3 separate regions of the Homo sapiens genome follow, and regions 1 and 2 are each linked to region 3. Evidence: fine-mapped expression QTL. A gene starts in region 3. Each other region holds a variant in brackets. All regions are shown on one strand. Distances are between the middles of the regions.

Region 1 (10,829 bases), 390 kb after region 3:
TGTAAGTAGAGTTCCACAGCTCTGGGAAGTTTGGGCGTCCTCACCCTGCAAAGTTTAGGTTCTGTGGTGTAGCGCACTGCAGTTGATTTGCTTTTTGATAGTGGGGAGGGAAGCCGGTTTGGTCCGTGTGGGCCAGCGTGGTTTGGTGGAGTCAGCTTCATAAGAGCTGGGGTCCTGTAGGTGTCTACCAGAGGCTGGTGGCTAAGTAGGCATGTGAACTTACATGTAAGTCAGGGATCCCTAAAACCTCACTCTGTTTTTGTGCTGAAAGGGCAAAAAGGTTAACACAGGGAAGCTCAAATTTGCCATGTGCCCGTTTGAATATGTGAGAGTAAAAACGGCATTTCATCCAAGGCTTATCGTAGTCTAGAACAGTGCACAGTGTGGGAAAAAGGAAACAAGGGCTCTTCCTGGCCCTGCCAACCCCCTGCAGAGCTGGAATCCAGCTGTTTGGGCTGACTAAAATCACCTTTCCAACTTGACAGTGAGTGAGACCAGGTTGAACTTGGTACAGAGACGCTGGGCTGGCCCAGATGACTTCAGGTTACTCCTTTCCATCTCACTGGAGCCATTAAAAACTCCAACTCCTCCTCCTCCTCCTGCTCCATCAGCATATCTCTGAGAGAGTCACGGGGGCCTAAGAGTCTCTTTTCACTGCCTGGTGAGCAGACCAGAAGCAGAGGGAGAGAGGCAAATGAACAGAGGTCCAAGTAATTCACATACTTGACTGTGACAGTCTCTGCTTATTAATGTAATCTGTTTTCCTATTTGAAAGGGATGTTATCTGCAAAACTACCTCAGGCCCCACATGGCAGCCTGATTCTGAAGCATCATTGAATCTTGTATGATATTAAGTTGAGAAAGCTGCCCTTGGATCCAGTGTCTAATCTTTGTGAAGATCTTACCCCATACATAGAATACAATGATCAGAAATGTCAAGGGTTAGGACAGCACAGCCCTGACTTCTACCCAGGCTCACTTGTTGCCTGCTCCCTGACCCTTGCAGGATCTGCCCAAAGGTGAAGCGCGTCTTCAGGTCAATAGATAATCTACTAGAGATTGTCCCCAGAGAACAGAACTGGGCCCTGAGGCCCACCGTTGCCCTTTCCTGAGAGTCCCAGCCCAGTGAAAGGAACACAGTTGACATGTTGTTGAAGCCGGAGATGTTGCCTGTATGCGTAAAAGAGCTCTCTGTTTCAGGCTCATGTACAGTCAGGAATGGTTCCTTCTCATCCAACTGCCCATGCGCCAATGATGCTAATGACGACACAGCCACCCGGCGGTCCCCAGGCCGCCCTCGCTCAAAGTGCACTACAGCCCATTCCAGTCTCGACAACAGCGCATTTCCCCTATATGACGCACCCTTCAGGTGAGGCGTGTGTGTGCAGGGGCCGCCGGGGCACCCCAAAGCATTCTGCTCGCACAGGTGGAATGGCAGGCAGGGCCAGTGCTTCAAGCCCCGCATTTGAGAACTAGCAAGACCCGTCCAGGAGTGTGCACAGGAGGGACTGTGACGATCAGTTCAGCATCAGGGCCTGAGGCTTCCGGGAGCCGAGTCTGTGTGTGTTCTGATGGTATACAGGATTTGGCTTGATGAGAAGCAGCAGCAGCAGCAACAGCAGCCTGATGCATGCCTAGGACTCAGTTGGCCTTCCTTGTTATGACAGGCTGGACAGGGCAGTGTTTTCCTTCCTGAGTCCCAAAAGTCTGACATGTGGGGGGTTATTACCATGGCAGAGTTTGATTGTAGCTCTGGAGAAGATACTGCTGAGAAAGCGCTGTGGATGGACTGGCTTTGAGTGTAGCGTTAGCCCCAGCCCCTGAACAGGGGAGAGCGCCCTGTGATTGTGCTCTACTACTTGATGGCTGCCATGGCGATACTTCACAGTCTGACCTGTTATTCTGAAAGCAATACTGGTGCTTGGCTAATATTTGGGGAGGGGGTTTGTTAAGGCCTTTTTTTCTACCCCATGAACAAGTCTTCTGGGAGTTTTATCTGAAGTGGTTTTACGTCTGACTGGTTTGTTTCTACCCACCCACCCAACCCTCCCCACTTTGGTGCAGATGGGAGGGGGAAAAGCGAATTCAATTTTGAGTTTTGTTCAGCTAGCACGAGGATAGTTTACAATCATGTGCTGCAGAGACACTAGGCTGATGTGTGGTGTTGCCAGTTTTCTGTTTCAATGTTCGCTTTTCTTTTTACAGTACAAGCCCACCACCAACAGCAGTTGTAAGGCTGCCCTGGAGGAACCGAAAGGCCAAATTCCCTCCTCCCTTCTACTGCTTCTACCAACTGGAAGCACAGAAAACTAGAATTTCATTTATTTTGTTTTTAAAATATATATGTTGATTTCTTGTAACATCCAATAGGAATGCTAACAGTTCACTTGCAGTGGAAGATACTTGGACCGAGTAGAGGCATTTAGGAACTTGGGGGCTATTCCATAATTCCATATGCTGTTTCAGAGTCCCGCAGGTACCCCAGCTCTGCTTGCCGAAACTGGAAGTTATTTATTTTTTAATAACCCTTGAAAGTCATGAACACATCAGCTAGCAAAAGAAGTAACAAGAGTGATTCTTGCTGCTATTACTGCTAAAAAAAAAAAAAAAAAAAAATCAAGACTTGGAACGCCCTTTTACTAAACTTGACAAAGTTTCAGTAAATTCTTACCGTCAAACTGACGGATTATTATTTATAAATCAAGTTTGATGAGGTGATCACTGTCTACAGTGGTTCAACTTTTAAGTTAAGGGAAAAACTTTTACTTTGTAGATAATATAAAATAAAAACTTAAAAAAAATTTAAAAAATAAAAAAAGTTTTAAAAACTGATCAAGTTAGTGTGTGTCTGTATAAGCTACTTCTTTGTAGGATACTTAATATCAAAGCAGGTGTGCTAAGGGTGCATTTTGAATATCCCGGAAGGTAGCTGTGAAATGATTTTTCTTCTTCACCCTTAGTTCTGGTTCAAGGTATCTCTAGAAAAAGACAAGACTGAGCTATTCTCTTTGGTGGATTAGAGATCTGCTTCAGGAGGAGGAAGGTTGGCCAGAGTTGGGCAGCACTGAAATTCCACATCCTCGGGCTGACACCGATTCTGTAAGCTTCCTTTTTAATATCTCCTGAACCAAAATGAGTGTCATTAGCTGGAAGTTCCCAATTCGGGCATTTTTCTACTTTACCAGTAGGGGGCAGGAGACACTCAGAAAAAAATTGCAATAAAGAAATCCAGAGGGCATGAAGGCTGAAAAGATACAAAGATGTACAAAGCTGCTTATTGACATGGATGGACTCATAAGCATTTGTTAGTATTCCCAGATTGCAACGGGGAGGACAAAGGGAAGAGCGAGTATTTGGGCAGGGCAAGGATTTTGTAGAGACACCATGGTCTTAATAGAGCCTTTAAATATTATGACAGCAAATCAAGATTCTGAAAACTTTTTAATTCACATATAGCAATTTGTACATTATAGCAAAATTTGCATTATTCAAGAATAAGTTACTTGTACAGTACATAAAACAATACATAAAAATTTGCCAAATACCTTCTGCCTATAATGATACAAGATGAATCCACTTTATGTTATCACAATGTGCTGTATATTCTAACCAAACACAGGATGTCAGATGTGTCCTTGTTAATATACTCGCAAGTTCCTCTAGCTTGTGGGAGATGTTAGAGCTAACACATTTGCAGTAAGGGACTTAGTCCTGAATAGAAAGCATGAAGGAATCTCAGGCAACCCTCAGGGAAGAGTCCAAGGCCTTGACTTTAGGTTAAGAAACTGTTATGTAAAAATAGTGTTCTCTGGCCCAAGATTTTAATGATTGCTATTCCTTTTTCCTACGGTCCAGAAATGATCAAAGGCAGAAGATTTATACCAGATAAAGCCATATGGATTGCTGGTCTAAAATTCAAGGCAGGTTAGTTGACTTAATTCTTTGGTGCTGGTGACTGTTAGTTTGTAAAAGTTCAATAAGTCAGATGAAGGAAGGGATGGTGCCGGGAGCTGTCAAGCTGTACTGGTGGGGTCTGTAATTAGAGCTAACTGGAGGGATCATGATGTCTACTGTCCAGTTTGGTGTTGAGCCATGGCTCTCGGTAGAAGTTGCCGGCTGGGGCCTGGTCAGGACTGGAAGGAGAGTGGTGGGATGTGCTGTGCCTATGGTGGGCTAGCTGCAGCCAGTGGGGTGCCTGCCCCACACTGCTGCCCACCCCTTCATCAGCTGATTCTGCTCCCACATAAAGAAAGGTGTTGGCTTAGTGTCACTTCTTCCTAGAGCCATGGGAGTTTTCTGTCAGCATGTTTTTGAGCTGTCCTGGTAACTTGGACGGGAAGCAGTCTGGAGGTGGGTGCCTTCCAAATCTCTGCCACAGAATCTGAACTTGCACTTTGCAGCCTGTTAGTCAGAGCTGCTAAGTTTGCTCTACCTGGTGTGCCTCTTGGCACCACCTGAGAGATGTATGTAGAGAGGCTGCTAAGAAATGAGTGCCCCTGGCATGAAGACGTCATATCCCAGATGTTTAACTTCTGGCTGGAGGGAGGGAACTTAATTTGGTTCATTATCTACTGGGTACCTTTCCTGTGCGGAGGGGAGGACCAGTGACTTTCCATAATAAGCTTTCTCCTTTAAAAAAACTTCAGACTCTTACTTACTCTTTTGGTTCACACTAATTAGCATTCATTTTCCAGAGAAAGCTGCTTGACTTTGAGGAAATAAAGACAGGTGTCCTTAAAAATGGACTGCAAATCTGGATCAGTGTCAGGTCTGCTTTAGGGTCCATGAAATCACCCAAGAGTGTTGGTACTAAAAGTGGTGTAGGCTGGGCGCGGTGGCTCGCGCCTGTAATCCCAGCACTTTGGGAGGCCAAGGCGGGTGGATCACCTGAGGTCAGACATTCGAGACCAGCCTGGCCAACATGGTGAAACCCTGTCTCTACTAAAAATACAAAATTAGCCAGGCATGGTGGCTGGTGCTTGTAATCCCAGCTACTTGAGAGGTCGAGGCAGAATCGCTTGAACCAGGAAGGTGGAGGTTGCAGTGAGCCAAGATTGCACCACTGCACTCCAGCCCGGTTGACAAGAGAAACTCCATCTCAAAAAAAAAAAAAAGAAAAGTGCATAGGGGTTTGTTCCCCCACCCTCTGAAAGACCCCAAGGAAATTCTAGAAGCAAAAATTTGACCTCTTGGAGCACAGAGACTAAGTATAAGTGGAAGAAGCAGACCTAACCCTCCTCCCAGGCAGTCAGTCCTATGAGTTTTAGGCTGAGGTTTCATTTTAGCCTCTGATCGATGTATCTGTAAAGCTGATCTAAACTCCCAGTTTCCTAGAAGCCACTGCTGTGAGCCTGGGGGTTGTACTGAATGGCTCTGCTGGCACCCAAGAGCAGCTGACTCCACTGTCACTGCCCCCGTTTCTGAGCCTCCAGACAGGTTCTGGGAGGAGCCAGCCCCCTATGAATTGTATCACTTGTATAGATAGAGATTTGACTTCAGGACCTCCCTGGATGGTGGAGATTGTGTGTGCCCATGTGTGCAAGGAGATAGATAGATTCTCAATCCAGTGAAGCAGTAGCCAGCTAGAACAGAACACTGATTGTGGGCTATTAAAGGAGTTTCTCATTAGTTATGGCACCAGATTCCCAGCTTCCATTTTGGCTCAAAAAAGGAGCCTAAAACCCACTTGTGGGATAATTTAATAAGCCATTAGATGCTTGGAGGGCACCAAGCCAGCCTTGTTGCTGAAGGATTTACTAGAAAGGGCCTAGGAGTCCTTCTTCCCTTTTTGCTTGCTCTTCCCCTAGCCCCAGTTAATTTAACTATCACTGTAAAGCTGCTGTAAACCAGAATCCAGTTTTTTATTCGTAAGGCACCAGGATAGAACTGTTCTTGCCACCCTCCTATTTCAGTAATTGCCTGAATTTCCCTGAAAGGGTGACATACTTCACTTCTTGACATTTAGGAAGGACAGTGGCCACTCAGTGGCAGGTGACTGTCCCGAGGATGCAGTAGACAAGCCAGCATGCTGGCTCAGACTGTAAATTAGGTAGGGTTTGCATAGCTGTTTCTGACTACAAAAATAGCATGGGTGTTAGTTGAAACAGTGCACTGAAATAAGCAGTGGTTAAGTTTTGAACCTGAATCCTTTAAAGAAATTAGTCTGAGGTAAAATGTTTTAAATCATTTTTGACCTTCAGCTTGTGCCTCTGACAGAGCTTTTGTCCTAAAGCTGAGAGTAGAAGCAGGATTAGATGTGGTCATCTGTGGTGTGGACACAGCAGACCTGCCATGTGGACTGACGGTAGATGGGAGAACCGCTTGTTAGTGTTCTGGGCTTCCTGATGATCCCCCCCTCCTCCCCGTAGAAAGTCTGTCATCCGCTGTGACAGTGTCAGTGAAAAAGAGAACAAGTTTCCACTGCCAGCTCTGGCCCTCACCCCAACTCCTTTCTCTAAGAGTAACGGGGACTGGGCATAGGGACCC[C/T]GGGCAGGAGCTAGCGGCATCCTCTAACAAGAACTACATCTGTAAACAATAAGGAGAAAGCCAGGTGGATAGATGAAACCTACAGGAGGGCCCTTCAACAGGCCTAATAGAAGGGTCACTTCCAAACTGGCACGAGCAGTTAACAGTGTCCCTTAAATCTTTCTCTGGAAGGAAGGAAAGATCAATTACATTCACAAGTTCACACTTCTGCCTGTGCTCCTCAAGGGCAGCTGTTGAGGCCTGGAATTCCTCACTGGTCAGAGAGGTGTGTACTGATTGTCTATGGCCCGCAGGTGGCTCCGGGAGGATGAGTCCATTTCGTAGTCCGAGTCCCGGGCTCGATTCACAGGCTCATGCTCCAGGTGCTGCAGGCTGTTGGCCAGTTCTTCGGGCGAAGGCACCAGGTGGAAGATCTGCTCGGGGGGTGAGGATCGCCCTGGGAGACCCTCTGGGCTGAGCCCCCGGGGACAGCCAGAAGAACTAAGGTGGGGAAGGCCCAACTCTGAACCCCAGTGAGGAAGGGACTCTGAATCCCAGTGAGGAAGGGAGAAAGGGAAGAGGACCGTGTTGCAGGAACCTAGGACAAGTGACCAAGAGAGACCACACCATCAGTCTTGAGGCAAGTGCTGACAGGACACAGAACAAGATACCTGTACCCCTGGGTCTGCAGCAAGCCTCTACCCTCTACCCAGTGTCAGCCACCCCCTTCAGCAAAGGGCAGTAGGGTCAGACCTGGTGGTTGGGAGACGACTACCACGTAGCTGGAGAGCCGGACATCACAGGCGGCGCCGCACTCGAGTGGGATGGGCGAGCGCTGGAAGTGGTGGAGCATGTCCACGACCGAGGGAAAGTGGAGGTGCTGCACACGGCACTGGCCCCGCTCTGTCAGCGACAGGCGCAGGTGCTGTGGGAGGAGAGGATGGTGGGCTCGGGCTGTCCCTCTAGGACCCTGAACTCCAGTGGAGAGGGGTGGCACGGTCCTGCCTGCCCCACCCCACCCCACCCCACCCCATACCTTGGCTATCCCCTGAAAGTTGAAAGTGAGCACGTATTCCCCACGCCGCGTCTCGCTCTGCCGCACCAGGAACACTCCATGAGCATCAGGGCCCTGCAGCTGAACCAGCTGAGCTGCTTTCACTCTGGAGATGGGGCCGTGGAACCAGGGGTAGCAGGACAGGAAATGGTCCGTCTTCTGGCAGGCCGGGTCCAGCAGCCCCCCAGGAGAAGCACCTGTTAGATAAGATGGGTGATGGTGGTCGCAGGGGGCTACCTTATGTCCTGGGCTGAGTCTGGGTTCCAGCGTACCCAGAAGACAATGGCCTAGCTATTGGTTTACCCACCTTGGTTAAGGGAATCTGTGCTGCCCCTTGGGGAGCTGGACGTGCTAGGCTCTAGGGCTGAGGGAATATGCATCTCTGCTTCTGTGCTCTCCAGCCTGCTGGAGAAGAGGCTGAGGTTAAGGATCTGGGCAGGTCAGGGGTGGTAGCAGCAAAGGTGGTGCCAGGGACGAGGGCCCAGGACCTCACCCTCGGCCTGTGCACTCCGAGAGCTCAGCCATCCATGAATTCAGCTGCTGCTCGTCTCCCACCTCAAAGATGATGTCTGTCCGGTCCTTCACCTGGCAGGGAGGAAGGGAACAGGGTTGGGTCTGCTGTATGTGTATGTATTTGTATTGCCCCAGGGTGTGAAAAGCCTTGTCACTCACCTTCAGCACAAAGGTGTAAAGGTTGTCAGGCATCTCAAGCCGTGTGCACCACCGGACCTCCTGGATGCTGGAGCAAGCTGCTTGTAGCTTGGGCCTTGAACTCTACGAGACCAAGTTGGGGTACTCAAGGCTTGTTCCTGATGCTCTTTCTTCCAGCCAGGCCTGAGTTTGTCTATAGTCTCCCCAGGAGTCCCCCTTTTAGAGAGAGTATCCATGGTGTTGCTGGGCAGGCTCTGAGCCTGTAGTGAGGTCCAGGGTGCCTTCCCCTAGCCTCCTGAACACCATTCACACTGAGATCCCAAGAAGCATGTGCTGGCAGAAGGCCAGCCCTCCCAGCCCATTGGACCTGGACTTGGAGACATTCCCACTCTGCCATGTGTCTGACATCCGTTTCTCTTCCCACTGGTGAGCAAACAGCTCCCTGCCCAGCCAGGTGATAGCAGCTGCTGACGGTCTCATCACACCAAGCCCAAAGGGGCAGAGCCTAGCATGGCTAGCCTAAGTTATAGCCACTGTAAAACCACAAAATCTTGGCCCTGGACCTTCCCAGGACACCCGGCACATAGGGCTGCAGGGTGGATAGGAGTTAGCCACTGTTCCTTTGCCAGCAGGAAACCTGCTCCCAGGTCTCAACTGACCCTGCAGATGCTTCCTGTGCTGGGGCACTCTGCAGCCAAGGAGCCAGCTGCTTCCGGTTGGGAATCTGCTCAGGAGGGGGTTTGCCCCTCCCCTTCCTCTTGTGATAAGACTGAAAAGATGGCCGAAAGAAGAAAAGGGGAGAAAGAGATGAGATAAGGAATGGACAGAAGTGGCCCCACTGGGCCCCCTCCATTCAGGTGTTCCTGGAAAATACTACAACCCCTAACAAACTGGGAGCAGGGGGATGGAAAGCAGAGGCAGCCCAAAGGATGTTCTAGCAACTGTGGCTTCAGGTGATCTGACCTCCACCTCAGCCCAAAAGGGCATACCTTGGACTGGAGCTGCTAGTGCTGTTGAATTGACCCCCAAAACCAGATGCTTAACCTTGCTTTACACACAGAGCTGCCAGGTACCTCTGTCGGAAGGATCATGACCCAGTGGCCTGGCCACCTCCTTTATCCCCCTTCCCCACCTGCAGGAGAGTCAATGAACAGTGAGGTAAGAGGGCAGCCTGGCAGGAGCAGGATGGCCACCTGGGCCCTTCCAGCAGGTCTCCTGGGAGCTCCCGGGCCTGCTCTGGTTGGCGGACACAACAGGCTGGGGGAGAGTAATGACTGCAGGAATGACCAACACTGGCCACAGCTCACTGCGGCCTCTCACTAGAAAGCTGCATGACTAGAAAATTCCAGCCTGAAGTGACCAGCACCAGCCAGGGCATTTTCACCTCCTACTCCCAGAGGTCCAGCAGCCAGGATGAGGCAGGCAGAGTGAGGCCTCACATGGCATCCACACGGGCACTGGACACAGCGCAGTGTGCAGGGAGTGGGGCCTCTGCGCTCTTGCCCATTTTTACAGCCAGCCAGCCCTGCAGAGCCTTCATTTCCTGTCTGCAAGATGGGTAAGGTGCGAGTGGCCACTTCCTTCTGCTACTTTTCCAGTTGGCCCTGCCTGGCCCCCACCCTTCCCCCTAGCTGCAGGCCTTAAGGATCACTGGGAGGATATAGGCCAGGCCTGGAGGGGAACGGGCCTAGTCTCCCTTTCAGTTCCGCTCCAGGCCTAGTCCCCAGTGTCAGTGCTGAGATTAACCAGCAGAGCTGCCGGTTTCACTCTGACTCTGGCCCCTGCAAGCCAGCTCCACCCCCAGCAGCTGAAGAACTGCTGAGCAGGCAGGCAGTGGTGAAAAGAGGATTCCCCTCCTCACCCACAGCCAGCCTGGCTGCCACCTGCCTGCTGGCTGAGCACAACCCAGGGGTTCTTCCCCAACTCCCCACAGCAGCCCTTGAGAGCCGCCCAGGCCTAGAGCCACAATCTCAACCCAAGCCTGCCAAGTATCAGAGCCGGGGTCCGCCACAGCTACCTGGTGGTATGGGTGTCCTATGCCAGAGGCTCCAGCCAGGTTGCAGCGTGTGGGCACATGGGCGCAGGACAACCCCTGCTTCAGTCGAAACCTCAGCCTGGACAGCTCAGGCTCTGGCCACTGCAGGGAAGGACCACCAGATGCCCATCAGATTAAGCTATATGGGGGGATGGGTGAGAGGGGAGACAAGCTCAAACCTGGGGGCTGTGTCAGCAGCTGTGGGGGCTTTAGGTTCCCTCCTCTCACATGCCCGCTATTCCACCTCCCTCAAAAGTCAAGCCAGGCCAGCAACAGCTGCTCCCTGGACCTGCTTAGGCTCTACTGTGGTTGGGTGATCAAAGTGGCCAGATCATTTCAGGTATTTGTGGTTTGAACAGTAGACTGTCACCCACCACATCCTGCAGCGTCTATTTCTGGGGAGCAAGTCTTCTCCATTCCCAGCATCTAAACAGATGGCTTCTGTTTGTTATGGCCACTGTGGCTCCAGTGGGAATAATCTATTTCTTTCTTTGCTCTGGCTGCTAGGAATCTCAAAGTCAAAGACGTAGGCCAGCTCTGACACTACCCCAACGGTAGGACTTGTATTTATTTCAACAGCTAACTTTATCCCAGATGTTATAGTTCTTTTATCCTCTAGGGTTT
Region 2 (10,829 bases), 670 kb after region 3:
CAAGGAACTGCTAATGTCACGTCAACATAGGACAACTTCTTCAAGTGAGAAATTAGGGTTCACAGATTGAAGGGTGGAACCAAACTGATCAGGAAAACTTCCTGGAAAGCAGGAGCGTGGACTCATTCAGACACGTCCCGTGCCTCTCCATGCCTGCTGTCATCAGCCTGGTCTGGTCACTGCCAATTCCTGCCTGGATGCTTGCAGGGGCCTCCCTGGCTCCATGCAATTCTCTGCCATCTCACTTCCACCCTGGCAGCCAGACAGGGCATTTCAAGATGTAAACTGGATGTTGATACTTCCCTGCTTAAAACCTCCCCGGACTCCCCATTCCATTTCAGATCAAATCTGAACTCTCCAGCCCAGTCTGCAAGGCCTGTGTGGTCAGGGCCCTGCCTGCTTCTCTACAGCATTTCCTCCCACAGTCCTTGTGCTTTGCTCCACCCTCTGGCCCTTCATTTGGTTCCTGGAAACTGCCAAGCCCAAACCAGCCCCAGGACCTTTGTACGTGCAGTTTCCGCTACCTGAATGCCCTCTCCTCCCAATTCTTTGCCCAGTTCAGTGGTTCCCAAAGTCTCTGGCCCAGCAGGATCAGTGTCACCTGGGATCTTGTTAGAAATGCAAATTCTTGGACGGGCTCCAGACCTACTGAATCAGAAACTCTGAGGGTAGAGCCTGGCGATTTTTTTCAAGGAAATTTCAGGTGATTTAAATGCATGCTCAAGTCTGAAAATCAATGGCCTAACTCAGGCCTACCCCTCAGCCAAGTTGCAGCTTAAACATTACTTCCAGCAGACCAACACCCCAACATGAGGCCAGTTTCCTGCTGTCGTGAGCCCCTGCTGCTGCCTCCTCACCTCTATGAAGCACTATGGCAACTGTGATGTCATCAGGAACTATTTCAAGTCTGTGCCTCTTCATAGCTAGACTAAAAGCTCCAGGAGGGCAGGTACCCCTGTGCGCCCAGCACCTCATCGTGCCTAGAAGAGAGTAGGTGCCCCGGAACTATATGTTGCATGAGCACATGAATGAATGCTCAAATGAACAAATGAATGAGTTCTGGAAGAATGACAGTGTTCATAAAGAAAGTGCCCCCTGGCATCCTATTTTCCATCCACCAGCCCACAGATCAACCCTGTCCCCGTCCCCATTTGACTTTCTGAGTATCACCCTGGTCAAGTCAGGAGCCAATCACAGCAATGTATGGGAATGACCATCAAATTAGAACAACAAGAACATCAACCAAAGAACCAGCCAAGGGGAGACTCCCACGCAGTAGATGCCCAGCTCAGGGTCTAAGCCTGAACATCCCTCAAGAAGAACAACAAACCTCTCTCTCCCTGACAGCAACTGGCTGTGCAGACAGCTTCCAGATAAAAACCTAGAGACCAAAAATTTGCAGGCAAGAAGTCTGCCCATCAGCTTGGAAGATTCCAGTCCCGCACTCACCCAAGTCTTCTGGCTGAGAGGCTGAGGCTGCCTCGAACTAAGCCCCGAGTTTATTGGAAGCTTCTCGATGCTGCACGGCAGTTTGCTCAGCTCTTGGAGCTAAAGCTGGAAGGGAAATCATTTCTTTTCCTATAACTCAGAGCAGTTATATTCTCTTAGTGTGGACATCTGGCTCACTGCTGATCTCCTTACTTACGTTTTCCAAACGATATCAGTTCTGGGAAGATCAATTATTACTGAAAAGTCGAGAAACGTTCACTGGTTATTTGCATTGATTTGGTTGACAAGACACAGACTCCTTTTAAACTACAGATGTCCATGGAAGGGACAGAGAGGAGAAAAACACAAGAACCCCAGACAGCTCGAGGTTCGGAGCCTCCACCCAGCTGCAGGAACTGCACAGAGTGGAAAGCGCTGGCTGGGATGGGGACACTGAACCACCCTCCCGGAGTCCCCCAGATAGAGCCATTTCCATCAAGACAAACAGGTAGCCAGTGTTGGCCAGCACCACAAGCAGCCACGATGATATAATTTGTTCGTTACTGCATCATCTTTAATCAATAGGATCTGGAGTTTCTACAGCTTGGACAGCCCAAATCTCTCTGGCAGCCAAGAACCAGCGGGTTGTTAAAAGGCCCGATAGTTCTGCCTCGCTAATGGGTGGCTGGTTCCCTCAACCCTGCTGATTTTTTAAATAAACCTAAATTCCAATAATTGTTTAATGTTTATTTTTATTTAGTTCTGGTTCAGATGCTCTGCGTCTCTCTGACAGAAATTGATATCTGGCTCCTGGTGAGCTTTATTAAAAAACAGGCAAACACACATGCACATACACACACAAACACACACACAGAGGCACATGCACACACAAAGGCACATGCACACACACACACAAGCATATGCACACGCAGAGACATGCATACGCACAGGTGCATGCACACACGTGTGCACATGCACATGTATACGCAGGCACAGGTACACACAGGCATATGCACACACATGCGCACACACAGGCACATGCACACACACACAGGTGCATGCACATGCACGCACACACACGCACGTGTACACAGGCACAGGCACACGCACACACAGAGAGTGCATATGCTGCCTGCCCATTGGGAAATGGGTTATTTATTTGGTACAGGTAAGGCCCAGGACCCACATATCTGGATGGGAGAAGACAGAGGGCCAATTTCCCAAGCTCTGCCTTCTCTCCGGCTCCTTCCCCGGGAGGCGAAAAGGGACCCTGCCATTCTTTCACCAGGGAGCCCTGTTCTCAGCTCAGGCACTGGACAAAGGTGACACTGAGCCCCTAATTATGGCCTGCAAACCCCTTCAGCATCACTGTGGCCACAGGCTGGGATGACTCCTCAGAGAGGGCACTCTGGGCTTTTCCGTCCCATAGCCCCAGATGTGTCAGGTGGCTGTGCTCCGGAGACCCACTGAGCCACTAGCCATCTGCGTGCACAGGGACACGGGACCGGGGTTTCCCCACAAGCCATGGAAACAAGGAAGCAAGATGTCTCCGGGCTGCTTGCATTGGGTCAGAGAGAGACCCACTCCCACTGGTGCATAAGAAACCCCTCTCGTCTGTCCTTCTGGCCGGTCTCAGAAAAGCCGCAGTGAGTCTGGGTATTAAGGGGAGGTTTTTGGTGCTCTCAGCAGGCTGCACAATGCACTAAGGGGCTCAGGTGTTCACTGGCAAAATCACTGCAAACTGATGACCTGCAGATCGGGCTTGCCAACAAGGTCAAGGTGTGTGTGAAGGTCAAACTCGAGGCTTTCCTTCCATACTCTGCACCCCGTCCATCAGACTGGGGGTTGCCCAACTTCTCCATCTCTGTCACCCCCAAGTGGAATCAGCCACTGACACCTGCTGGGATGACTCCAGGTGTTACCAGCACCTATTCTCTCCTTGGATGCCAACGCCACTCTGGGTCACAGCCCAAGAGGCATCACCAGGGCAACCAGAACACCTTGCTGGACCCTACCTGGCGCTTCCCCACTCCCCTCCCATTCCCATGCACCTTGACCAGAATTGCCGATGCCAGACATGGGCCCGGTCCATCCCTCCTTAATCTCTCCCGCTTCCCAGGAGACACTCCCATGGCTTCCACATGCTTATTCCCTCCACCTCGGCCTTCCTACCACGCTGGGCCCGAGGTCAGGGACCCAGCCACGGAGAGGAACAACCTGCTATTTTCATCTTTCCAACACACCACACATAAGAGGAAGTGATGTCAAAGTTCCTCTTTCTGTCGGAGAATGGGGAAGACTGGAATCATTGAGCAGTTTCTGCAGCAAGTGGAGAGGATGTTGAAAAGAACCCAGGCTTTGTCATCAGAAGAACTGGGTTTCAGGAGGCAGGGGTTGCAGTGAGCTGAGATCGTGCCACTGCATTCCAGCCTGGGTGACAGAGTGACACACCGTCTCAAAAAAAAAAAAAAAAAAAAAAAAAAGAAGAGCTGGGGGTGTGCATCCAGCTTCAGTCACTTCCTAGCTGTGTATCCTGGGCACATCACCCTATCCTGTGATCCACGGTGGGGGCAGTTTTTTTTTTTTTCTTTCTTTCTTTGAGACGGAGCTTTGCTCTTGTTGCCCAGGCTGGAGTGCAATGGCATGATCTTGGCTTACCACAACCTCTGCCTCCCAGGTTCAAGTGATTCTCCTGCCTCAACTTCCCGAGTAGCTGGGATTACAGGCATGTGCCACCACTCCCGGCTAATTTTGCATTTTTAGTAGAGAAGGGGTTTCTCCATATTGGTCAGGCTGGTCTTGAACTCCCGACCTCAGGTGATCTGCCTCCCAAAGTGCTGGGATTACAGGCGTGAGCCACCACGCCTGGCCAGTTATTGTTCTTAATACTCTCATCCTGGGAGACTCAGGACGAATGCTCAAGTGCAATCCCTTACTGCTGCATAGGGGCTGTTACTGTTGGCACCCCAATTCTTGGAGGCAGTTTCCTTAAATTCTTCCCCCTAGTACCTTGCATGGGGCATCCAGTGGCCCTGTTTGCACAGGGAATTTGCTTCCATCCACAGCTGCCACACACAATCTCTAGCGGGCTCCCTGCTGTCCACATATGGCCCATAGTCATTCCCTGCCACCCTCATGCCCTCTGGACCACCCTGGCCTGCCACCAGCCACCCCAGCAGAACCACGTCTCTGTGTGTAATCGACTCTAATAATTGTCCCAATACATAAGGCGTGTACTCAGGGTCTATTATCAGCTAATGAGTAAATAATATTCTGTTCTAAATCCAAAAGCGCTATTAGATACCAGAGGGGGACTAATGGGCGTTTTAAGACCCCTTTAATCACATATTAACGTGACGCGAAGCAGGCTGCGGAGCCCATATGCCAACCACCCTGCCACTGAGGAGGCTTTTTCCTCTTTAAAAGAACAAAGTCAGGGAGAGAGCCAGCCCTCCATCCTCAGGGCTGGTTAGGCAGCCAGGCCGACCCGCTGAGGGTGGAAGAATGTCCCTGATCCGATTGGCTATCTTTGAATAAAACGAGTATGGTTGTGGCCATCCCTGCTTTTCTGGGGCATGGTGGGGAAAGGGGGTTCTGTTCCTACGGACGCTGTGATGAATTACCACCAACTAGGGGAGTTTAAAACAACAGGAATGTCTTCTCTCCCGCTTCTGGAGGCTGGAAGTCTGAAATCAAGGTG[T/A]GGGCTGGCAGGGCTGCGCTCACTCTGCAGGCTCCAGGGGAGGGTCCTTCCTCGCCACCTCCAGCTGCTGGTGGTCGCGGCCATCCTTGGTGTTGCTGGGCTTGTGGCATCGCTCCCATCCCTGCCTCTGTCATCACATGACTTTCTCCCTGAGTGTCCCTGTCTTCATGTGGCCTTTTGACAAGTACAATCAGTCATTAGATTTAGGGCCCACCCTACTCTAGTATGGCCTCATCTTAACTGATTTCACCTGCAGAGACCCTGTTTCTAAATAAGGTCATACCCTGAGGTTCTAGGTGGACATGAATTTTGGCGGATGCCATTCAATGCAGGACAGAGGTGAGATGGAGGGGTAGTGATGACAGTGGGGGGAGGGGGCAGGCAGGGGGCTCTGATATGGACCTTCATACTCTGAGCGACTATAACATAGAGTTCCTGCCATCTTGCAACCCCCACCCGGCTGAGCATTCCACAAAAGTTCAAGCACCCGACCCAAATTCCTCCCACTGATCCATCATGTCCTATTAGCAACTTGCGTTTCTTATTAGCTACTTCCATCGACTCATATTAATATTTGTTTTCCCTAATACAATGCAGGAGTCTTCTCCGATTAGTAACTTTCATATCACATTAGTGGAAACAACTATGAATACAATACAATCCCAATATGACACAGTTTGATGGGGAGTCACTAACACAATGCGACTCTCCCCTGTGATGGCACAGGAATGTCGCTCTGTTGTCAGGCAGAGCTAGGGAACGTGGAAACAATCAGTCCCCAGCATGCTGAGCCACATGGGCCACCCTTGACCGACGGGACGAGGTTCTGGTGTGGTGGGAGGTCCTGCTTGGAAGGAACCAACTTAGTGCGTCTCTCCTTGTTTCCAAACACCCACCCATCAGATCAATAAGGATCATTCCAGCTATTCTCCAAAACTTCTGAGCAGCCCTGGAATCTGCAGGGGACAGGTGACAGGCAGAGAGAAGGGCTTGTGACATCTTCTGCAACCCAGATCTCCACAGCTCTACCTTTATCAGTGTGACAGGCAGGGCTGGTGTTGCCCAGGTTAATTCATCAAGGATGTGTGAACACAGCAGAGTTGGGGTGAGGTGAGGAGCCACAAACTGGGTTGCTGTCTGATGAGGCCTCAGGAAATGGGTTGGGGAGGAACGGCGCTGAGACGGTGCACATCTGTCAGGGCAGTTTAGAAAGACTTCACTCCAGCCAGCTTGGCTCCGGACTGGCTTGAGTTCAAATCTTATCACTGCCCTCTCTAGGTGATCTCTCTGTGCCTCAGTTTCCTCCTCTGTAAAATGGGGATAAAACAGGGCGTACCCTGAGCGCAGTGGCTCACAACTGTAATCCCAGCACTTTGGGAGGCAGAGGTGGGTGGTTAACTTGAGGTCAGGAGTTCGAGACCAGCCTGGCCAACATGGTGACACCCCTTCTCTACAAAAATACAAAAATTAGCTGGGCGTGGTGGCGTGTACCTGTAATTCCAGCTACTCAGAAGGCTGAGGCATGAGAATCACTTGAACTCAGGAAGCAGAGGTTGCAGTGAGCTAAGATCATGCCACTGCACTCCAGCCTGGGCAACAGAGCAAGACTCCATCTCAAAAAAGAAACAAACAAACAAACAAACAAACAAACAAACAAACCCAGGGCCAACCTAATAGGATTGTTAGGAGGATTAAATGAGATAGGAACAGAAAAAACTTAGAGCTTTGCATGGCATCTGACAACGTGGTAAATCTGCCTTAAGATGCAGCACAGGCTATGACTGCAAATCCTGAAGTGACTCGGTCCCTTCTACCATGGACGGGGGTCACCCCTCCTTGCCTTTCAAGTTCACCCACTTGTTCTGAGTGAGCTCTGGGCTAGGCATTACAGAAAAATAAAAAGTTGAGGATGAAACAGGCCCTCCCCCTCGAGAAGCCCATGGTCTACTTAGGGGCACAAGCTACAGAACCGAGAGGCAGGGGTCATATCACAAGAGGTTTTCGAGCCAAGTCAAGGAGTGTGAACTTTATCTCGATGGAAATAGGGAACAGTGGAAGAAGCAAAAGCCCCTAAGCTTCAGTGCAGGTGAAGGAAAGAAGGCCTGTGGGGACAGGGGATGGTGCTTCCCTTGGTGCCAAACCACCTGTCAGCTCAAGTCCTGGCAGAAAGAGAGGCCAAGGGATAGCAAGAGACAGAGACAGACAGGGGCAGGGAGGACAGTGCAGAAGCTGAGACTGTGAGCTTCTTGTGACAGTGCTGGCGCTCTCGCTCTCCCTGCCAGCCTGTCTAGGAGACTGGCAGAGCCCCCGCCCTGCCCTGCCACAATCCATTCCAAGCTATCCCAGGCAAGGTTGCCGAATAATTCCCACCGCCTCCAAACGGCACTCCACGTGGCAGCCAGCAGCCTGCTGCCAAGGGGCAAGTGGCCAAGATTCCCTTCCAACAGAGACATCCCCTCGCCAATCAGAATGCGGCCGGCACGCGTCCCAGAAAGTTGGACGGTTGCTGTTCGCCAAGCAGATGATGCCGTCAGGACTTCTCGGTCCTGGGCAGTGTCCGCTACCCCCGCCCAAGCCTCCCAGCAAGGAGGGTCCACTCTCAGGGACCAAACACCGGCCCCTTCCACGTTTAGCCTCTGCAGATCCTCCTGATGAAAGCACAGACTCTACAGTCAAAATGCGAGGGTTCAAAGCCTGGCCCCTCCATCAAGCAGCTGTGCAAACCAGAGCAAGTCACTTAACTTCTCTGAGCCTCGGGCTGTGTTCACAACATGGGGTTCATACCTCATAGAGTTGTTGGGTGGGTTAAATGAGAATATCTGCAGGAAGTGCTTTTCCAGTGCCTGGCACTTAGTCCATGCTCAATAAATGTTAGTTTGGGTATTACCATCTACGGTATGTCGTCTACTCAGAACTCAGCTAACTGATAATGTCAGCTTTCCAGAATGGAGCTAGGAGCCAGAGGGTTAGAAGAAAAGGCTTCCAAGCAGTTAAAATAAATGTCGCAGGCTGGGCGTAGTGGCTCACGCCTGTAATCCCAGTGCTTTGGGAAGCTAAGGCAGGAGAATCGCTTGAGGCCAGAAGATCAAGTCCAGCCTGGGCAACAATAGCGAGACTTCGTCTTTACAAAAAAATGAAAAAAGTTAGTCAGGTGTGATAGTGCACACCTATAGTCCCAGCTACTCAGGAGGCTGAGGCAGGAGGATCACTTGAGCCCAGGAGGTTGAGGCTGCAGTGAGCCGTGATCACACCACTGCACCCCAGCCTGGGTGACAGCGAGACACCCAGTCTATAAAAACAACAACAACAAAAAAGAGTCAAAGTGGACACACTGAAAGCGCAATCATGAAAACCATTTCATATTAGTAATATTAGAGTAACATGCTTAATATAATCGTAATTAGTAATCACCACCACCAAACACTGTGGATAGCAATTTAAATACGTCTTGGCATTTCACCAGTAGGATGCTGGTAAATGTTAAACAACCAGCTCTCTGGAGAAAAAGGACAAATTCTGATATTTACCATTTCCATGGTGTACATTTTCCCACCATGGTCAATTTCAAGCCCTGCTGTGATGTCACTACACGTGGAGCTGGGAGGCGATGCTTATAGCTGGTTCTCACCCACCAGCTCTGGTCACTGCTGCACGAACACTCTCCACATCCCAATGAGGTCAGTGCTATTTTTACCCCCATTTTGTAGACAAGGACAATGAGGCCCAGATACACATATTTCTTCACCCAGGGTCATACAGTGAGCAAGTGGCAGCAGCACCAGAATTTGAGTCCAGTTCTGTGTGGATTTTAAAGTTCATGTTCTCTGCACGTGGCCCAAATTCCCCGCCATGAGACAATAACACTGACCGTCTTGGTAGAGACAGACGACAGTCTGTGTCCACTCTCCACCAAACCCTTGCATCTTCTGTGCTTAACTCTGTTTGACAACTTCTGGAGGCCACTGCCTCAATGAGGTCACTCTGGTTTGGCTCTGAAGACGTCCTGCCATGTGGGTCACCATGGCCCTCCATGACCTTCCTACTTCTCTTTTCTCAGGGGGCAGAAAGATGCATCTCTTCCCTACCCAGAGAGCTAAACACCAAATGTTTTCCTAATAAAATGGCATATAGGATCATAGCCTCCACCCCATCCTTACCCGCATAAATAGCCCCTAGTCCCTTACGACACAGAGGCCCTTCTGACAGCATCTACAAAGTAGCTTAAGAAAAAAAGGGAATCCATTGCTCATATAATTGAACAGTGGAGTGGTGGCTTCAGGTATGGCTGGATCCAGCAGTTCAAATGCTATTCGCAGGGTTTGATTTCTGTCTCTTGGCTCTGCTTCCCTCTGATCTGTCCTCCTCCTCTCCCCCCCATGGCTGGCCCTAAAACTTTAATTTTCACACGAGTCACCTGGAGATCTTGTTAAAGTACAGATTCTGCTACAGGGGGTACAGGCAGGGACAAGTCTCTGTATTTCTAATGAGCAATTCAGTTCTACTGTGGACCACACTGTAACATCACACTGTTAGCAGTGAGGATGTGAATCCCCAACATTCACATCCCCAAATTGCTCATGGGACCCCTAACATTCCTCTGTGCCTCAAGGTTTCATAAACTCCCAAAGCAATTATTGCGTGACTTCTAACTACGAACACCTTGGGGGGCTGATCCAATTTGTGTGGATCCCTCATGCTCACTTTCTGTTATTGTCTTTTGCTTGTTCTCTTTTTTTTTCTTTTTTATTTTTTTGAGATGGAGTCTCACTCTGTTGCCCAGGCTGGAGGGCAATAGCACAATCTCTGCTCACTGCAACCTCCACCTCCCAGATTCAAGTGATTCTCCTGCCTCAGCCTCCCAAGTAGCTGGGATTACAAGCACGTGCCACCACGCCCAGCTAATTTTTGTATTTTTAGTAGAGACGGGGTTTCACCATGTTGGCCAGGCTGGTCTCAAACTCCTGACCTCAAGTAATCCACCCGCCTCAGCCTCCCAAAGTGCTGGGATTACAGGCATGAGCCACCATGTCCCGCCCCTGTTCTAACTCCTACTCAACAAACACCAAGTGTCCCCTCAATACCAGGCCTGGAAGGGTGCTGGGAATATGGGAAGCCCTAATCTCAGCCTCAGGGAGCTGACAATTCCCTCCATTTTGCAGGAAAACCCCCAGAGAGTCTGTGAGTTCAGTTTCCAGGTAGTATTATAATAACAGCATATGCTTAGACAGTACTTACTACATGCCAGGGACTGTTCTAAGTGCTATAGAGATATTAATCCATTTAATCTTTTTAACTCACCCTATGCCCTAGGTCCAATGATTAGCCCCATTTGACAGATGAAGGGATTAAGGTTCATGGAGACAAAGTCACCTGCTCAAGGTTATACAACCTTGAAAAGAAAAGAGAAATGATTTAAACTCCTAGAGGAAAAGTAGGTGTGGGGCATGGTTCTATGTTGGGGACTAAGGAACGCCCCTGGGTAACTTGACCCCTGGCAAGCATGGGTGGGCGTGAGTCAGCAGAAATAAGTGGGCAAGTGACTCCTCCTGGCTGGATTCAGGGGGATGAAGGAGAAGAGTCCTGTATTATTTGGCACTCTTCAAGTTGTAAGCAGCAGCAGCCTAATGCAAAGTGGCTTAAGCATAAAAAGGAAACTGCTGCTTATATAGCCAAACGGTGCCAAGGTAGTTTCAGGTATGGC
Region 3 (10,829 bases):
AGGATATGTTCCAAGACCTCCAGTGGATGCCTGAAATCTTGGATAGTAGTGAGCCCTATACATACTGTTTGTTCTGATAACCAAGATGACTACTAAGTAACTACAGGATAGGAAGCATATACAGTGTGAACATGCTGGGATGATTCATGTCCCAGGCAATATGGCAAGAGATTTCATTACACTACAAAGAATAGTGCTTAATTTGAAACTTATGAGAGCCAGGCATGGTGACTCACACCTGTAACTCTAGCACTTTGGGAGGCCGAGGAGGGTGGATCATGAGGTCAGGAGTTCGAGATCAGCCTGGCCAACATGGTGAAACCCCGTCTCTACTAAAAATACAAAAATTAGCCAGGCATGGTGGTGCACACCTGTAATCCCAGCTACTACTCGGGAGGCTGAGGCAGAAGAATTGCTTGAACCCAGGAGGCAGAGGCTGCAGTGAGCCAAGATCACGCCACTGCACTCCAGCCTGGGCATCAGAGCAAGACCGTCTCAAAAAAAAAAAAAAAGAAAAAGAAACTTATGAATTATTGATTTCTGGAATTTTCCACTTAATATTTTCAGACTGCAGTTGACCATATGTAACTAAAATTGTGGAAAGCAAAACCGTGGATAAGGGAGGATGAGATCTTAAAGTCCAATCAACCCACTCTCAGGTAGTCTGGCAGCAAGAGTTAAAGTGTTGTGGCTGGAGGCCAGGAAAATAGCTTTCCAGCTGAACACTACAGGTTTGTCTCAGTGCTCACCATCTGCTGAACACCCCCCAAAAAGCAAAACAATGAATACAACACAATGCCACAGACCAAATGTTTTTTATTTGATGTAATGCTGGCTTGCTTCCAAAGCAGTACATCCTAATCAGTACTGATTTTCAAGTCCACCAATAGGTATTGGCTGGAAATGCCCAAATTAGCGTAGATTCACCATGACCTATTGAGTACTTCTGAGTGAAGAAAAGCTAAAAAAATTTTAAGAAAATTGGGCTGGGCAAGAGTCAAGTGAAAAAAACAACTCTTTCTAAAGCACCCTTAAGTTGCTATGAGCTAATATTCATTGAGCTCTTGCTGTTAGGTATTATTATTTTTTTGAGAAGGAGTCTAACTCTGTCGCCCAGGCTGGAGTGCAGTGGCATGATCTCAGCTCACTGCAACCTCTGCCCCCCAGGTTCAAGCGATTCTCCTGCCTCAGCCTTCTGAGTAGCTGGGATTACAGATGTGTGCCACCACACTCGGCTAATTTTTGTATTTTTAGTAGAGACGGGGGTCTCGCCATGTTGGCCAGAGTGGTCTCCAACTCCTGACCTCAGGTGATCCGCCCGCCTAGGCTTCCCAAAGTGCTGGGATTACAGGTGTGAGCCACCGTGCCTGGCCTAGGTATTATTATAAGCACATTTGGGTATATCTGCTCATTTAATCCTCAAAAACTAACAAACAAACCAACAAAAAACCCTATAAGCTGGGAGTGCTTTTATCCCATCTACAGATGAGGAAACTAACGAGACAGAAGTGAAGTGATGTCGTACTCAGACACACGGCTAATAAAATAGAAACGCTGGGCTGGGCGTGGTAGCTCATGCCTGTAGTCCCAACACTTTGGGAGGCCAAGGCGGACAGATAACCTGAGGTCAGGAGTTCGAGACCAGCCTGGCCAACATGGTGAAACCCCATCTTTTCTAGCAATATAACAACAATAACAACAAAATAGCAATAACAACAAAAATAGCCGGGCGTGGTGGTGTGCGCCTGTAGTCCCAGCTACTCGGAGGGCCAAGGCACAAGAATTGCTTGAACCTGGGAGGAGGCGGCTGCAGTGAGCCGAGATCACACCACTGCACTCCAGCCTGGGTGACAGAGTGAGACTCTGTATCAAAAAAAAACATAGGGTGAGATTTCAACTGAGTCTACCTAGAGAAGCTATAACAACCACTAAGTGACATTGCTGCCCTATTTGTATACTTATCTCCTGGAACTATGTCTCTCTTCTGTTCAAAACTCTCCTATAGTTCCCCTTTTAATCAGGGTCAAACCCAAAGTTCTTACGATGGCCTACAAGGCCCTAAGTGCCTTGCTTCCCATTGCTGCTCTACATCATCTCCACTGACCCACTGCATTCCAGCCACCTTGCTCTTCCTACATCACACTACACCTGCTTCTACCTCAAGGTCTGTCCTTGCTATTCCCACTGCCTGTTATACTCTTCCCTGAGACAGTGGTGGCTTGCTCTCGCATTTCCATCAGAACTCTACAGTGTCACCTCCTCGGACTACCCTATTTAACACAGTACTCCTCACCCTTTCCACACTTAATTAAAACCACCTAGCAGTAACCCCACCCTCTAGAATATAAGCTACATGACAGTAGGGACATCTAGGAGTCTGGCTTGTACCATTTGTGTCTAGGACACCATCTGGCACACAGGAGACAATGTTTAAAAACTGGCCACATACGCTTTGATTCACAACCCAATTAAATAACTTCAGGCGGCATATCATGCCTCTGTGCCAATAAAACCCAAACCAAGGCTGGGCGCGGTGGCTCACACCTGTTATCTCAGAACTTTGGGAGGCCGAGGCGGGCAAATCATGACGTCAGGAGATGGAGACCATCCTGGCTAACACAGTGAAACCCCACCTCTACTAAAAATACAAAAAAATTAGCTGGGTGTGGTGGCACGTGCCTGTAGTCCCAGCTACTGGGGAGGCTGAGGCAGGAGAATCACTTGAACCTGGGAGGTGGAGGTTGCAGTGAGCCAAGAGCATCCCACTGCACTCCAGCCTGGATGACAAAGCCAGACTCCGACTCAAAAAAAAAAACAAAACCCAAAACAAAAGAAGGATATGTCAAGGCAGTCTTTTAGAATCTTTATGATTTAAAACCTCGTCTTCCTTGGGCCAGGCACGGTGGCTCACGCCTGTAATCCCACCATTTTGGGAGGCCAAGGCGGGCAGATCACGAGGTCAGGAGATCGAGCCCATCCTGGCTATTACGGTGAAACCCCGTCTCTACTAAAAATACAAACAAAAGAAAAAATTAGCAGGGCGTGGTGGGTGGGCGCCTGTAATCCCAGCTACTCGGGAGGCTGAGGCAGGAGAATGGCGTGAACCCAGGAGGCGGAACTTGCAGTGAGCCAAGATCGGGCCACTGCACTCCAGCCTGGGCGACAGAGTGAGACTCCGTCTCAAAAACAAACAAACAGACAAAAAACCTGGTCTTCCTTAATGTATATGTTATATGTTGATGCCTCCTTTAAAGGGTTAAGTTTCTTTGGAATGACTTGATGATTTTGAGAAACTATATACACCACCTAAAGAATTGGTAGAAATGTAAATTCTTAATCATTACTAGTAACTGTCTTGAAGGGGAAAATAACCCCAAGCTGCCAATAGATGCCTGTCCTTCAAGATAAAATGAAATTATTCAATGCACTGGGCTGACTTAACACTACAAATAAGTAAATAATACATCAAACTTTAAGCGTCAATGTTTAATTTTCATAAGACTAATTTCTTAGCTACAGCTGTCAAGACAGATAACTGGCCCTGAGTGGGCAAAATGTGCCTTTAAAAAAAAAAAAAGTTAAAAACAGGTTTTAGAAAACTTATTTTATTTGTGTAATTTTCGAACACACATTTGCTTTTCTTTTGGTTTAAGTGCAGTTAAGTCACAGGAACTGTTAACTTTTCCTAAGTAAACTCAATGCTTCCTAGGAGAAAGAAGAGGAAAAAGAAAAAGGGGAGAATACACGGAAAAGTGAGGACAACCTATTCCCCAAAGGACAGGTTTTGTACGGCGAACCACCTTTTTCCAACTGCAGATTTCCAGAAGGCTGATTTCAAACAAATCGGGAGGGATGGATAAATTCCAACTCTCCAAGTTCTGTAGACCATCCGGAAGCAAATGCTGGCGGCCTTGGGGAGTGATCGAAACGTGTAGTAGTAGTAGTAGGGCTCTCTTCGTCCCATTCATTGACACTTAATAGTGTCTCCAGGCCACTCACCTCTGTTCCAGCTGAGCACAAATCACACTCACCAGGGAAGCTGGCGGGAGTCGGACACACACCTACACCCACACCCATAACCCTTGGCCCCAGGGCTGTAAAGCGCGATCCACGGAATCCGGGGGAGGCCGAAACCCGGTAGTCGATGGAACCTCTCACTGCAAAATCTCCCTGCTTTTTGAGGCTAGAGCCGAGAAGAACGCCACAGGACAACGCGGGGGAAGAGGGGGCACCTCCCCCTTACCTTGATGGCTTTGTCCATGTCGCTCTCCTCCGACATACTCAGTGGGGCCCCCACAGCCGGGAGAGGCGGAGGCTGCTCAGCAGCCCTGTCCCCGCGCGGCCGAGGGAGCAAAGGGCTCGGCACTCGGGCCCCTGGGCCTCGTGGCGACGGGCAGCAGCCGCCCCTCGGGACCGGTGGGGATGAGGACCCCGGCGCCGGCTCTGCTTCGGCGGGCGGCTCTAGGCTGGCGGCAGCAGCAGCGGCGGAGGCGGCGGCCCCTGGGGACAGGTCTTTGTGCTGGGCCCCACGCGGCCGCCTCCTAGCCTCATCCCCAGCTGGGGAGGCAGGCTCCTGGGGTAGGGCGAGGCGGGGAGGGCCTCGACCCGGGGCGCCGTGCAAGGGCCTCGCGGGGCCGCCGCTTAGACCTGGGCTCGCCAGGTCCTAAAGAAGAGCCTGCGCCTCCGCCTCCGCCGCCTGCACCGCCGCGAAGCCGAAGCCGAAGCCGAAGCAGAGCTCGGCGCCGCTGCTCCCGCCGCCGCCTCAGCGCCACACATCGCCGGGACACCCGCGCCGGGCAGCCCCGCCGGCCGCCCTCACGCACGCGCTGTGCCCCGCGGGAGCTCCAGGCCGCCCCTCCTGCCGCCCAGCTTCGTGACTCCACGGCCCCACGCGCCCCTTGCTGCCTTCCGCTGGGGTTTCCGAGCCGCCCCCGAACCGCGCACCCGACTTGCAGGCGTCCGCCTGGGCCTCCCTAAGACACGCCGCATACAGGACAGGCCCCTGGGCCTTCCGCGGCGATGGCGCTGCGCTAATGACGTCATAGGCCCGGACTCGCGTGAGTGCGCGTGCGTTGGGGCCTCAGCCTTTATCTCCACTCTGCGGAGATTCACGCCTGGAAAACGCTCTTCTGAGAGGATCTGTGGAGGTCAACCCAGGAGAGAGAAGACAGGACTGAAGCACTGAAAGGGTCCTGCCGTTAAGGGCGCAGGATTGTATAGAATATATAATAGCAGTAGCAGCTCTGTTTACGGAGCATTAACCTTACGTGGAGTTATTTCCTGCATTTCCTCCTTTCGTCTTTACAAGGTAGCCGTTTGGCGTCGTGAGGTATGGATGTTCCCATCCCTAATTTGCAAAATAGGTAACTGAGGCTCAGGAGAGCTAGACTAGTTTGTGCACAGCCGAGAAGTGGTCAAGCTAGAATGGGACCCCAGGTTTGTGCTCCCTACTCTCCACCGATAACCTATCAAAGGGCTTTGCAAGAGCTTTTGACTAATCGTCTGTCAATGGTTCTTCATTCACGTATTAATTGCACATCAGTATGTGCCAAATCTACTAGACATTGGAGAAACAGTAGGAACAACACATGGTACCGGCACATGGATCTTTCAGGAAAACGAAGTAGGTAATAAACAGGAAAAAGCCCGAGTCTGATGCTAAGAAGAACATAAACAGGATGCTGAGGTAAGAGAATAACTGGATGTGGGGACTTCTTCGTATTAGATGATTAAGGAAGGAATCTCAGGAGGTAACATTTAAGCTGAGACCCCTGAGGAATGAGAAAGGGCTGGCTATTGGAAATCCAAGGAAAGATTTCTGGGCAGATGGGTAGAAATTTTAAGGTGGAAATAAGCTAAATATGTTCAAGAATCAGCAAGAAGGTCATTGTAGCTGGAGTAGATCGAGTAGGAGGAGACTGATAAAGGGTGAGGTTGGAGGCTGGGCGCGGTGGGTCACGCCTGTAATCCCAGCACTTCGGGAGGCCAAGGCGGGCGGATCACTTGAAGTCAGGAGTTCGAGACCGGCCTGGCCAACATGGCGAAACCCCGTCTCTATTTCAAAAAAAGAAAAAAAAAAGTATAAAAAGGATGAGGTTGGAGATGTGGGCAGGGGCTGCATCATATGTGGCCTTTGGGGGTCATAATCAGGACTTTGGATTTTATTCTAAGCTATTGTAAGGTTTTAAAGTAAAGAGTGATGTGAACAAATTTGTTTTAAAAGATCACTCTGCTTTGTAGAGAATAGAATATAGGAAAGCAAGAATGGAAACAGAGCTATTAGGAGGCTATTGGAGAATAATGCAGATGAGAGATTATTACACTGTCTGAACTAAGGAGGTGGCGGTAAAGGTGTAGAGAAGATGGATTTTTTTTTTTAAACGGTCCCACTGTCTAGAGTGCAGTGGCGTGATCACAGCTCACTGCAACCTAGACCTCCTGGGCTCAGGCGATCCTCCCACCTCAGCATCCTGAGTAGCTGGGACTATAGGCGCATGCCACCATGCCTGGCTAATTTTTCGTATTTTTTTTGTAGAGATTGGGTCTCTCCACATTGCCCCGGCTGCTCTCCAACCCCTGAGTTCAAGTGATTCACCTCCCTTGGCCTCCCAAAGTACTGGGATTACAGGCGTGAGCCACCGTGCCTGGCTGAGAAGATGGATTTAAGACATATTTTGGAGGTAACATTGTCAGGACTTCCTGAAGGATTAGATGTGGAAGGGAAGGATAAGAAACAGACCAAGGATAACTTTCAAATGTATGCTTAAGCAACTGGATGGATAATGATGCCATTGAGTGAGTGAAAAACTTGATGGAAGTGGAAGATTCAGAGTTCATTTCTATCTAGGTTAATTTGAGACATACCAGAGCATAAGTTAAGTAAGTAATTGAATATTGGAGTGGAGACTTATTTGTCTACCGAATTATTGTTTTCTTTGTCGGACATACACCTACACTGCATTCCTCAAAGTAAAATTTAAGTGTGGCTCTGTGCCTATGCTCTCCCCAGCGGAAAGTGACCAGAAGAGGTGTGCAGTTTCCAGGCCTGGCCCATACAGACCTCCAACAGGTGCTCCCCTGTGCTGTTACTCCTTCTGCCAACTGGAAGCAGATGGTGACCAGGCTCTGGAGAAGGCAAGGCCTGAAGATGGGAGATTCCTAAGTGGAGGAGAACTGTGCCTTACTGACCTAAATATCCACTCAGTATTGTTATGTGAGAATAAATAAACTTGTGTTGACCGTTTACTTACTTTGAGTCTTTTGTTCTAGCAGCTTTGCCTATGCTACCTAATATGAATAAGAGCAATGATCCCGCGATGAACTTTGGGAGAAAATTTTTAAATGACTTCAGTTGACATCTGTAACAGGAAATATTCGTGCAAAAGTAATTGTGGTTTTTGCCATTTAAAAATAATGGCAAAAACTGCAGTCATTTTTGCACTAACCTATAGAAGATGCCTTGGATTTATTCATTCATTTCATCCAGTAAGAATTTCTCTCTGCCAGGCTCTATGTCTTGTAATAGAGATGCAGAGATGATGTCGTATAATAGAGATGCAGCAATGAAGAGACAAGGTCCCTGCTCTCAAGCAGCTTTTAGTCTAGCTGTTCAACTTACCGACTTATTTGCACGTGCTTTCCCACTACCTAGAAACTCATGCTTCCCTCATAACACACACACATACACACACAGCCTGGTTTCTACTCATTCTTCAACTTTATTCTTCTTTGAGGCGGAGGCTCACTGTGTCCCCCAGGCTGGAGTGCAGTGGTGCGATCTCGGCTCACTGCAACCGCCGCCTCCTGAGTTCAAGTGATTCTTCTGCCTCAGCCTCCCGAGTTGCTGGGATTACAGGCACCCGCCACCACGCCCGGCTAATTTTTGTATTTTTAGTAGAGACAGGGTTTCACCATGTTGGCCAGGCTGGTCTCGAACTCCTGACCTTAGGTGATCCGCCCACGTCAGCCTCCTAGAGTGCTGGGATTACAGGCGTGAGCCACCACACCTGGCCAATTCTTGATAATGTTTTTTCAGAAAGGCATGCCTTGCCCATACCCTCCTTTCCTAATCTAAATCAGATGTTCCTATTATCCTGTAACTAAATAATCTCAACAAGGGAAAGAATCTTATTTGTCTTATTGGTCATATGTCCCTAATACCCAGTCCATTGTAGGTACTTAATAAATTTATTTGTCGAAGGAATCAATGAATGGAGAAGGCAGAACCCTGAAGAAAGCGGTTTCTTCCAATGAAATTCCTCTGTTTTTTGCTGGTGTGGCAGCCCTGGTTCACAGCCTCCAGTGATGCTCACATCTTGGTATTTATGATCTTATGTAGTCCTCTCGCCCTGCATGTGGTCTGGATCAAGTGGTTTGCTTTCAGTGAACAGATGTCATGTTCAAGATTAGGTAGCAGAAAAACTCTGGCTTCCATTGGGGCCCTCTCTGACTCTTTTACTTATCTGCTCTTAGGGAAGCCAGCTCACTTGGTTCCTAAGGCTGCTGTAACAAAGTATCACAAATTGGGTGGCTTAAAACAACAGAAGTTTATCCTCACAGCTCCAGATGCTAGAAGTCTGTAATGAATGTGTCAGCAGAGGCCGAGTACTGTGGCTCACTCCTGTACTCCCAGCACTTTGGGAGGCCAAAGCGGGCAGATCACTTGAGGTCAGGAGTTCGAGACCAGCCTGGCCAACATGGTGAAACCCTGTCTCTACTAAAAATAAAAATAAAAAAATTAGCCAGTGGTGGTGGCAGGCACCTGTAATCCCAGCTACTCTGGAGGCTGAGCCAGGAGAATCACCTGAACCCGGGAGGCAGAGAGGTTGCAGTGAACGGAGACCGCACCTGTGAACTCCAGTCTGGGCAACAGATCGAGACTCTATCTCAAAAAAAAAAGTGGTGGGGCACGGTGGCTCATGCCTGTAATCCCAGCACTTTGGGAGGCCGAGTTGGGCAGATCATGAGGTCAGGAGATCTAGACCGTCTCAGCTAACACGGTGAAACCCCCCATCTCTACTAAAAATACAGAAAAATAGCCAGGTCGGGTGGCGGACTCCTGTAGTCCCAGCGACTCAGGAGGCTGAGGCAGGAGAATGGCGTGAACCCGAGAGGCACAGCTTGCAGTGAGTCAAGATCACGCCACTGCACTCCAGCCTGGGCGACAGTGTGAGACTGTCTCAAAAAAAAAAAAAAAAAAGTGTCAACAAAGCCATGTTCCCTCTGAAGGCTACAGGGAAGACTCCTTCCTTCTGGTGGCTCCAGACAGTCCTTGGCATTCTTTGGCTGTATCACTCCAGGCTCTTCCTCTGTCTTCACATGGCCTTCCCTGTGTGTCTCTCTGTGTCCTCTCCTCTTAATAAAACAGTCGTTGGATTTAGGGCCCAACATCATCCAGCACGATCTCATCTTAATTACATCTGCAAAGACCCTATTTCCAAATAAGGTCACATTCTGAGCTTCTGTGCAAACATGAATTTTGGGGCAATATACTATTCAGTCCATTACAGACATGGCGAGGAACTAACATCTCTTACCAGCTGCCAGTGAGTACCTAAGGACTACCCACACATACATGAGCTTAGAAAGGATACTCACCAAATTGAGCCTTTAGCTGATGGCATCCCCAGCCCACAACTTGATCGTGGCCCCGTGAGAGACTATGCCAGGCGCACCCAGCCAAGCCATACCCAAACTCCCGACCCACAGAAACAGACTTTTAAATGTTTTTTAAAGTACTAAATTTGGCCGGGCACAGTGGTTCACGCCTGTAATCCCAGCACTTTGGGAGGCCGAGGTGGGTGGATCACTTGAGGCCAGGAGTTTAAGACTAGTCTGACCAATATGGTGAAACCCCATCTCTACTAAAAGTACAAAAATTAGCCGGGCGTGATGGCGCCTGCCTGTAATCCCAGCTACTCAGGAGGCTGAGGCAGGAGAATCGCTTGAACCCGGGAAGCAGAGGTTGCAGTGAGCCAAGATCACACCACTGCACTCCAGTCTGGGCGACAGAGCAAGACTGTCTCCAAAAAATTTTTTAAAATTAAAAAATTAAAAATAAATAAGGTTGGGCACCGTGGCTCACGCCTGTAATCCCAGCACTTTGGGAGGCCAAGATGGGTGGATCACGAGGTCAGGACTGGCCTGGCCAATATGGTGAAACCCCGTCTCTACTAAAAATACGATTACTCAGGCATGGTAGTGTGTCCGGAATTGGTGGGTTCTTGGTCTCACTGACTTCAAGAATGAAGCTGTGGACCCTCGCGGTGAGTGTTACAGTTCTTAAAGGTGGCGTGTCCGGAGTTTGTTCCTTCTGATGTTCGGATGTGTTCCGAGTTTCTTCCTTCTGGTGGGTTTGTGGTCTCTCTGGCTTCAGGAGTGAAGCTGCAGACCTTCGCGGTGAGTGTTACAGCTCATAAAGGCAGTGTGGACCCAAAGAGTGAGCAGCAACAAGATTTATTGCAAAGAGCAAAAGAACAAAGCTTCCACAGTGTGGAAGGGGACCCAAGCAGGTTGCCACTGCTGGCTCCGGCAGCCTGCTTTTATTCTCTTATCTGGCTCCACCCACATCCTGCTGATTGATCCATTTTACAGAGAGCTGAGTGGTGGTCTGTTTTGACAGGGTGTTGATTGGTGCGTTTACAATCCCTGAGCTAGACACAAAGGTTCTCCACCTCTCCACTAGATTAGCTAGATACAAAGTGTCCACACAAAGGTTCTCCAAGTCCCCACCAGAGCAGCTAGATACAGAGTGTCGATTGGTGCATTCACAAACCCTGAGCTAGACACAGGGTGCTGATTGGTGTGTTTACAAACCTTGAGCTAGATAC

The links. PIP is the estimated chance that this variant, and not a neighbour inherited with it, causes the effect.
Region 1: its variant is fine-mapped to the expression of MAPKAPK5-AS1 in whole blood (TOPMed, PIP above 0.99).
Region 2: its variant is fine-mapped to the expression of MAPKAPK5-AS1 in whole blood (TOPMed, PIP above 0.99).

The regions. Positions count from the first base shown.
Region 1 is chr12:111,444,217-111,455,045 of GRCh38, reverse strand. SH2B3 (SH2B adaptor protein 3) reads right to left here. Exons shown (of 8, transcript NM_005475.3): 3 at 8,192-8,293; 4 at 8,013-8,104; 5 at 7,827-7,921; 6 at 7,502-7,716; 7 at 7,219-7,390; 8 at 3,423-7,063. The coding sequence ends at 6,744. It overlaps ATXN2 (ataxin 2), which reads left to right. Exons shown (of 25, transcript NM_001372574.1): 24 at 1,201-1,369; 25 at 2,206-2,832. The coding sequence ends at 2,234. It overlaps LOC124903019 (a long non-coding RNA gene), which reads left to right and starts at 10,301. Exons shown (of 2, transcript XR_007063462.1): 1 at 10,301-10,829. RefSeq lists enhancers at 6,452-6,521, 9,642-9,911, 10,662-10,781. The variant C/T (reference allele first, on the strand shown) is at 6,487.
Region 2 is chr12:111,163,628-111,174,456 of GRCh38, reverse strand. All of the region lies in intron 1 of CUX2 (cut like homeobox 2), which reads right to left. Among named protein-coding and RNA genes, the nearest start is that of CUX2, 130 kb to the right of the region's middle. The variant T/A (reference allele first, on the strand shown) is at 5,129.
Region 3 is chr12:111,836,184-111,847,012 of GRCh38, reverse strand. It overlaps MAPKAPK5-AS1 (MAPKAPK5 antisense RNA 1), which reads left to right and starts at 4,008. Exons shown (of 2, transcript NR_015404.2): 1 at 4,008-5,686; 2 at 6,536-7,246. MAPKAPK5 (MAPK activated protein kinase 5) reads right to left here and starts at 4,785. Exons shown (of 14, transcript NM_003668.4): 1 at 4,244-4,785. The coding sequence starts at 4,279. RefSeq lists silencers at 2,440-2,608, 4,290-4,639, 4,720-4,899 and enhancers at 4,100-4,199, 4,930-5,209.